Linked DNA regions of Homo sapiens: all the other regions are linked to region 1. Evidence: fine-mapped expression QTL. A gene starts in region 1. Each other region holds a variant in brackets. All regions are shown on one strand. Distances are from middle to middle. Region 1 holds the start of SPTBN5 (spectrin beta, non-erythrocytic 5). Region 2 overlaps SPTBN5 (spectrin beta, non-erythrocytic 5). Region 3 holds the start of EHD4 (EH domain containing 4).

Region 1 (2,754 bases):
CCCACATCTGGGCTCTGTTGGCTGGTTAACCATCGATCTTGCCTGGTAAATAATTCAGGGCCTCTGTTTCCTCATCTGTGAAATGAAAAGCCTAAGAGAACGCTAAGATTCTTTTGGCCTAGAATCCTGTGAGTCTCTCTTATGACAGACAGTGACATTTTCCACCCCAGTAGGGACCTGGATTGCTACTGCCATGGCCAGCTGGGTGCTCTCCAAGTCAGGGGTGCTGTGCGAGGAGGGCGTGGCTTCTGCTCCTCTGTGTCCCAGCCACTCCTCCTGTACTCAGGCCCCAGCTCCTCTGTTCTGCCCAGTGGCCTGGCGCAGGAAAGGTGACCCAGTAGTTCAGCCTGTCCCAGCTGCCTGCCCCAGCACCATCCCAGACCCCTTTCCCTGGGGCCCACCTTGGCCCTGAGGAAGGCCAGAGCTCGGCTGCTGTTCTCCAGGAAGTGCACACGCAGGCGGCCCCGGCTCGGGGGTGGCAGGGCCTCCCCTGAGATGAGCTCCAGCAGCCGCAGGAGGTGGATGCCGTCAGCCAGCTCTGTGTACAGGTTCCGGATCTTGATGCCCGCCTGGGGAGGGGACAGGGGTAAGTATGGGGTCAGCCCAGCCTCACCTGTCCTCCCATCCTGGGACCTGAGAGGTACGACCCAGAGCAGCTGCTTTGGAAGAAGGAGCTCTGGCCTCAGCTTGGCCTCAGGCAGATGACCCCACAGCTCACCCCGGAGGCCCACTGGCCAGAGCTGGGGGCCTGGTATGGGTGGGCTGTGGGTCACAGCTGGCTATACTCACCTGGCCGCACTGGAAGACGTTATTGATCCACTTGGTGAAAGTCTTCTCCTGCATCTGCATGTGCCGGGCCTGTAGCTTGCGAATGTGGCCCGTCTCGTACTGAGAGTCCATGGTGAGACTTGGACTGGGCGGGACCCGGAGTTCTGTGCTGGGCCTCCTGCTGCGGTGCCCTGCAGCCCCGAGGAGCTCCCGGGGACTGTGGGGCTGACCAGCCATCAGCCCTGCAGACTTTGGGGATGAGGAGCTGCTGGATGGCTCCCTAAACCTGGAGGGCATGCAGATTAGGGGATGATGTGAATGGAGATGGCCCCTCTACCAGGGGCCTGGGGTCCCGCCTTGCCAGACTGTCCTCACATTTCATGGGGGTTGCAGCTTGGAGCCCAGCCAGGTAAGGGCCAGTGCTTCTGGTCCCCTGTGCTTGAATGGCCCAGGGCCCCCTTTGCCCCACCCCACCTTCCAGATTCTTCTTCTCAGAGCCCCTGCTGCCAGGTCCCTCCACCACAGTGACTGGGACAGGTGGAAGGAAGACAGGAAACTGCTTACCTTGGTGATGCCTGGGTCCCACAGAGACGGCTCTGCTGGACGGATGGAGATGGTAGATAGCAGGGGCTGCTTACCTTGGTGATGCCTGGGTTCCACAGAGGCGGCCCAGCTGGACGGATGGAGATGGCAGATAGCAGGGGCTGTGGAGGGAGGGAGAGGGACATCAGGAGAGGCCAAGGCTGGAGCAGGGCTGCACCACAGCCCTCCCCTTGAGCCAGCGTGCTGGGGTGACGGCACACAGGCGGCATTGTCCTCCCACCTGCCACAGGGCGTGGCCCAGACAGGGAGGGGGTGGTTCAGGAATGCTCCAGGGCCATTGCCAGATGATGTCCTCCTTCATCATCCTCCCTTCCCCGCCAGCAACTTCTCCAACTCCAGGTGGGGGTCCTGGCTCCCAGGACGCAGAGGCCCATGGAGCGGCCCTGCCACCGCATGGGGTGCTGCAGTCTGCGTAGGAGGTACCAAAGGGCAGAGCCTCTGTGGGAAGCCTGTGGACGCACTTCCCAATCTGAGACTGCCCTCTGTACCCTCTTGGGGCCTCTCTGTGAGCACCCAGGGCGAGGGGATGAGGGAGCGTCCTGGGCCGTGGTCTTCTCATTCACCCCCAGGGAACAGCCCATAGACTGAGGGCCTCACAGACCCTGGGCTTGGCTTTCCAGGCCCTGCCAGAGTGCAGCCTGCCTAGCCCGGGGCTGAAGGGTAGGCTCCCTGGAGGAAGGGGTGACCTGGAACTGCGAGGGCTGTGGAGTCTCCTCCAAAATTAGAGACACGGTGTTAACTCTGGGCTCCACAGAGCTGGCCGTGGCCCGGGGCTCGGAGGCAGGGGTGCAGAGGGAGCTGGTGGGCGCCCATCCCTTCCTCCCCGAGCAGCCGTGGACTACATGCCAGAGTGAAGGCGAGTTCTAATTCTGGGGGTCTCACCCGCCTCTGGCTAAACTCAGGGTAGCAGTGTGGGCTGGGGTGTGTGTGTGTGGGTGTCTTCCAGCGGCCCTGGAGCCTCTGAAGCGACAGCCCGCTCCTCAGGGAGGCGCTCCTGGCAGCCACAGCCCACAGCAGGACAGCCGCTCAGCGCGCCCTTGAGAGCTGGGCTAGGGATGAGTCACACTTGAACCGCCTGGGCCCACTGCAGGCAGTCAGGGGTGACGCTGAGAGGTGCCGTGGTCTCGGGTGGGGTGCGGCTTCCTGCGTCTGAGAGACGCTTCCTCTCCTGCTGTCCTCTCCCTGCCAGGCCCCTTCTGCAGCGGCTGGCTTCCAGACACCCTGCGTCCCTCCCTTGCTCGCAGCAGTTGCTGTGGCGGTCCTCCCGTGCACCCCCCCTTCTGCCCTCACTGCCCCTGGGGGTCCTCATCACGGACCCCCTAACTCGGCATCCTGGACACCACCACCCCGCACCTTTCCACAGTGCAGCTCTGCTCGTGCCTG
Region 2 (2,754 bases), 34 kb before region 1:
GACAACATGGCAAAACCCCATCTCTACCAAAAATACAAAAAAGTAGCTGGATGTAGTGGTGTGGGCCTGTGATCCCAGCTACTTGGGAGGCTGAGCTGGGAAGATCACTTGAGCCTGGGAGGCGGAGGTTGCAGTGAGCTGAGATCTTGCCACTGCACTCCAGCCTGGGTGACAGAGCAAGACCCTGTCTCAAAGTGGCTATGTTTTGACTCCTTCGCTCACAGGACTGGTGGCTATGTCCTGTTCACATCAAAATGTTATCTTTAAAATTAATGAAAAGCTGCCATTTTTGGAGAGGGTGCCCCCCCTGCCCGCCGGAAAGCAACTTCTTCTCACTACACTTCTGCCTAAACAACCGCTTAGCCAGGTGCCTGCATGCAGAAAGTACTGGATAACGCTGGCCACCGTTACTGTGGTTCAGCACCAGCTCTGGGGCACTGTCCTGTGTTCTGCCTGGAGAGCTGTCCCACCACCCTCCTGCCTGCAGGGCCTCACCCGCTGCAGCTCCTGCTGTTGGTGCATGCTCGCGTCCAGCTCCGCCTGGAAATTCTGCTGCTTCTGTAACTGTGCTGGCAGCATGGCTGTGTCCAGCAAACCCTCCTCCAAGGCCACCAGGTTCTTCTCCCTCAGCCACGCAGCCACCTGGGCACATGGGGAGGACAGGCCTGCTGTCCAGGGCTTTCCCCTTCCCCTGACCTCTGGGATACCCCAGAGGAAGGGTGGCCTTTCCCTGGGTCGACTCCTTCCCCACCATGACCGCCTCCCTCTCCAAGCGAGGCGAACCTCCTGGGAGTCCTGCAGGAAGGCCTGCAGCTGCCGGAGCTCCTCCAGGCGATGGCGGCGGGTCCCGGCTTGCCTGAAGAGCGCCTCCTTCCTGCCAGGAGGAGAGGCTCATGGGCCTGGAGCCACCCCCGGGGCCAGGTGGGGTGCCCGTCCAGCCTAGGCTTTCTCGGGTATGAATATACTCTGAGTCTGGAGTTTCCTTTGGAATAAAGGTACATTGCACTCCCCCTCTGTATTTGTGTCTGTTATGCGCCGGATTTTGTACCCCCAAGTTTGTTTTTGTTTTTGAGACAGAGTCTCACTCTGTCACCCAGGCTGGAGTGCAGTGGCACAATCTCGGCTCACTGCAACCTCCACCTCCCGGGTTCAAGCAATTCTTCTGCCTCAGCCTCCCGAGTAGCTAGGACTATAGGCTCACACCTCCAGGCCCAGCTAAATTTTGTATTTTTAGTAGAGGCAGGGTTTCCCCATGTTGGCCAGACTGGTCTTGAACTCCTGACCTCAAATGATCCACCTACCTCGGCCTCCCAAAGTGCTGGGTTTACAGGCGTGAACTACTGCACCCAGCCTGTACCACTGAGTTCTTATGTTGAAGGCCTAACTCCAGAAGTGTTTTTGGAGACAGCGTCTTTAAAAGAGGTAATTAAGTGAAAATGAGGTCATATGGGTGGGTCCTAATCCAGTGTGACCTTATGAGAGGAGGCAACTGGGGCAGACACAAGCACAGGGGGACGATCTGCCTCCTGCAGGAGGGCAGAAGCCAGGGGCTAGAAGTCAGGGTGGCACTGTGCTGGGGGAAGCTGAGCCTGCCAGGAACCACCTAAGGTGACTGGGGTAGGGGGTGGTGACA[A/G]AGACCAGCAAAGCAAAGTTTGCATTCTGTTAATTCAAAGACCTCCACAGGTACCCAGGTGTGGTCCACCTGCAAGAATGGAGAGGGGGTGGCCGCGACCACTGCCAGGACACCAGCACAAGGAGCCATGGCATTTGTGGGTGCTGGTTGGCTCTCTGATCGGCTCTCTGAGAAGGACAAAAGCCCCCACCAGTCTGGGATCTGGCTTTTGACCGTATCTGCCTTGATCTAAAAGTCTGAGGAGCTGCATGAAGCAGCCAAACCTGATGAGCTTTTACAGGGAAAAAGAACTGCAGAGCTGGGGTCTCATGGGCCATGCAGGTCACATGCATCTGTGTCTGAACTTCAGTTAGATGAACTAAGACTTCTGCTAGCCTGCCTGTGGGGCCAGCACAGTGCTTTCGTCCTCATCACAGCCGTTAAAGCCCAGGATGTGAGGCTCAGCTGCCGAGAGGAGGAACTTGTCTGAGTCCTGCCATTAGTGGGCAGCACAGGGACTCAGGACTGTGACCCTGGAAGGCCGATGCTTGACCTCTGTGCCCTGCGACCTTCCGTTTCGTGAGATGATTTCCTCTTGGTCTCCTAGCATAAGCCTCTCTTTAAACTCCCTTTGATCTCAACTGAATGAAGAAGGAAGTGGGATTTTCCACGTGGTGTTTGATGTCCATAACAGGCAGACACATTGCAGGGCCAGGGGTGGTGGGGACCCCCGGCATCTGACCTCAGTCCTTGGACAAGGCTGGTGAGCCTGGGCCAAGTAGTGGAAGGGTGGGAAGGGAAGAACCGGGATGCCAGATGCCTGTGCCAGCCTGCCCACAGCACCCCTCACCCCAGAGCCACCACTACCTCAGAAGCATGGCCTGGCACCTGCCCAGGGCACTCTGGGCCTCGGGGTGCCCACCCTGGTGCAGGCCGCGGGCCGTGGCCTCCAGAGCACTGATCTTTCCCGCCTGCACCTCCAGGTCCCACTCCAGCATCTTGTGCTTCCACAGAAGGGGCTCCATGGGGGCCAAGGGGTCCTGGTGGGAGTGGGGAACCCAATACTGTCCATGAGCCTCCCCCTCCCATCCCAGGCTACCTGCCTTCCCACCTAGAACCATCCTACCAAATGCTCATCCACA
Region 3 (2,754 bases), 80 kb after region 1:
TGCGCAGGGCGCGGGTTCGCGGGACCCTCCAGCGCGCGGGGCTGGCCAGCCGGGGCGGGGCCGAGGGCACCGGGCGCCGAGCTCCGGGAGGGGTCCCCGAGGTCGCGCCGGCCGGGAGGGGCAGCGGCGGGAGGCGGCCGACTGCGGCGCACACGTGGGGAGGGCGGAGCGGGGCGGGAGCCGGGCGAGGGGCGGTGACGGTACCTGATGAAGGTGGTCTTGCCGGTGCTGTACTGGCCCACCAGCAGGATCATGGGCTTGTTCTCGAAGTCGGCGTCCTCCAGCGCAGGCGAGTGGAACTCGTGGAAGCGGTACGCCTCCTCCAGCGGCAGCACCTTGCGCAGGTAGAGCGAGCGCAGCCCGCCCGTCACCGTCTGCACCGCGTCCGCGCCGCCAGCGCGTTCGCGCCCGCCCGCCTGCCGCCCCATCCAGCTGAACATCCTGCCGCCAGTCCACGCTCGGATGGGACCCTGCTCCGGGTTCGACTCTCCCCGGCTCGCACTGAGCCGCCCCGGCCGCGCTGGCCGCCGCCCGAGGAGGGCCCCGCCTTGTGCTGCCACAGCCAGTCTTCGGCCGCTACGTCACGCGCGCTCGCCCACTATTCAGACGAGCTCTCTCAGGTCCTTCCTGATTGGATCTCTGCCAGAGAGGGCTGAAGGCGTCAGCCAATTGAGAGGAGGTTCTTAATGAATTATTGATGACGGAGTCATTCTAGAGGACTGGGCGGGGAGATGGTGTCTTCCCGGCCGGGTGGCACTGACCGGTCATGCTCAGGGCCCCCTTCTGGTTGCCGGTGCCTCACCTCTGGCCAGGTGGCATCGGCTTCCGGGTAAATCTGAGCTGCCCAAAGCGAGCCTCCGGAGGCTGCTCCATCTCCTGGAACGTTTACTCATTCAGGCCTCTGGACGTCGATACTGGGGATGAAAAGTTCAGAAAGTGGACAGGCAGGTTCTGTCTTCCCGGGGGCGGGTGGTTATGACTCCGTTTTACAGGCCAAGAGACCCAGGCTCACGGGCATAATTGACACAATCTTGAGGGGAAGTGGACTGGAATCTATTTGAGTAGCCGTTTCTCCTACTTCTCCACATTGCCCTCACTAAATTCTGGATCAGCTAAAGGCTTTTTCCCCTTAGTTTTCTTTATGTGTTTTTCTGTAAAGCCGAAAATTTAGTCATTACTCTCATTATTACATTATCCTCATTATTACAACTTTATTTCCACATATTGACATGTGAGTCATTGTCACCTCCTAGCTGTTTTTTGTTGTTGTTGTTGTTTTCTGAGACGGAGTCTCGCTCTGTCGCCCAGGCTGGAGTGCAGTGGCACGATCTCG[G/A]CTCACTGCAACCTCCGCTTCCCGGGTTCAAGCAATTTTCCTGTCTCAGCCTCCTGAGTAGCTGGGACTACAGGCGCTCACCACCATGCCCAGCTAATTTTTGTATTTTTAGTAGAGATGGGGTTTCACCATATTGGTAAGGCTGGTCTTGAACTCCTGACCTCAGATGATCCGCCTGCCTTGGCCTCCCAAAGTATTGGGATTATAGGCGTGAGCCACCGCCCCTGGCCTGTTTCTTTTCTAGGTTAAAAGGATACTCACTTATCTAAGTTGAGATTGGGGGAAATAATCACCTTTTGTGTCCTTGATTGTAGCTTAGGAATATTTCTTAGTTGTTTTAGAGCATTTCTCAAGTGTGATCCATGGGGCCACCTGCATATATGCATTTATGAGCTGGGATGCTTGTTAAAATGCAGATTCCTGGTCTTCAGTCCAGACCTACTGAGTTAAAATATTGAGGAGAGATGGAGCTCAACAGATGCCCTAGGTGACTCTGATGTGGCCTAAGTCTGGGGAAACAGTACACCCTGCAGTACTTCTCCAACCTAACAGAAATGCGGATTCTGATTCGGTAGGTATGGGATGGGGCCCATGACTCTACATTTCTAACAGGCTCTCGGGTATTGCCAATGCTACCCATCCCTGGACCATACTTGGAGTATGAGAGAACAGGACTTTGCATCAAAAGATCTGGGTTTGAACCTTGACTATGTAAATTAATGGCTGTGTGATTTTAAATGTGATGAGTTACCTCTCTGCCCTAGTTTCCTTAAGAGCAAAATGGAAACTCCTTTGGAGTTGTTGTGTGGGTCACATAGTTGGAGGGAATTGTATGTAACTAGGGAAGTGAAAAGAAAGCCAAGGGAAAATAAAGTTAGACATCTGCCTTGTGTCAAAATAAAACAAAGATTGAAATGTAAAAAGAAAATGAAACCACTGCACTACTAGAAGAAGGTACAAGAGATTTATACAATTTGGCGGTGGAAAAGCCTTTCTAACCAACATTAAGGACAGAAATTATGAAAGCAAAGGCTGACATATTTGACAACAAAAGTAAAAGCTTCGATGTATTTTTTTAGAATACATAAAAACAAACGGATATAAATACAATCTTACCATATGATGCAGAAATCAGCTCCTTAGTATTTACCCAAATGAATTGAAAACTTATATCCACAGAAAAGCCTGTACATGGATGTTCATAGTGGCTTTATTCATAAGTGCCAAAAATTGGAAGCAACTAACATGTCCTTCAGTAAGTGAAAGGATAATCTGTGGTACATCCAGACAATGGAATCTTATTCAGCACTAAAAAGAAATGAGCTATCAAGCCATAAAAAGACACAGAGGAAACTTAAATGCCTATTACTAAGTGAAAGAAGCCAATCCGAAAATGCTATGTACTGTACGATTTCATCTTT

The links.
Region 2: its variant is fine-mapped to the expression of SPTBN5 in cerebellar hemisphere (GTEx, PIP 0.98).
Region 3: its variant is fine-mapped to the expression of SPTBN5 in whole blood (TOPMed, PIP 0.98).

Annotation. Positions count from the first base shown.
Region 1 is chr15:41,892,493-41,895,246 of GRCh38, forward strand. It overlaps SPTBN5 (spectrin beta, non-erythrocytic 5), which reads right to left and starts at 1,561. Exons shown (of 68, transcript NM_016642.4): 1 at 1,407-1,561; 2 at 790-1,054; 3 at 402-569. The coding sequence starts at 1,005. It overlaps LOC105370792 (a long non-coding RNA gene), which reads left to right and starts at 285. Exons shown (of 4, transcript NR_135681.1): 1 at 285-586; 2 at 2,735-2,754. RefSeq lists an enhancer at 346-405.
Region 2 is chr15:41,858,107-41,860,860 of GRCh38, forward strand. It overlaps SPTBN5 (spectrin beta, non-erythrocytic 5), which reads right to left. Exons shown (of 68, transcript NM_016642.4): 47 at 2,480-2,652; 48 at 784-874; 49 at 496-642. Among named protein-coding and RNA genes, the nearest start is that of MIR4310, 7.1 kb to the right of the region's middle. The variant A/G (reference allele first, on the strand shown) is at 1,634.
Region 3 is chr15:41,972,055-41,974,808 of GRCh38, forward strand. It overlaps EHD4 (EH domain containing 4), which reads right to left and starts at 503. Exons shown (of 6, transcript NM_139265.4): 1 at 205-503. The coding sequence starts at 440. PLA2G4E-AS1 (PLA2G4E antisense RNA 1) reads left to right here and starts at 709. Exons shown (of 4, transcript NR_120334.1): 1 at 709-944; 2 at 1,750-1,904. RefSeq lists silencers at 1-214, 315-384, 425-554. The variant G/A (reference allele first, on the strand shown) is at 1,334.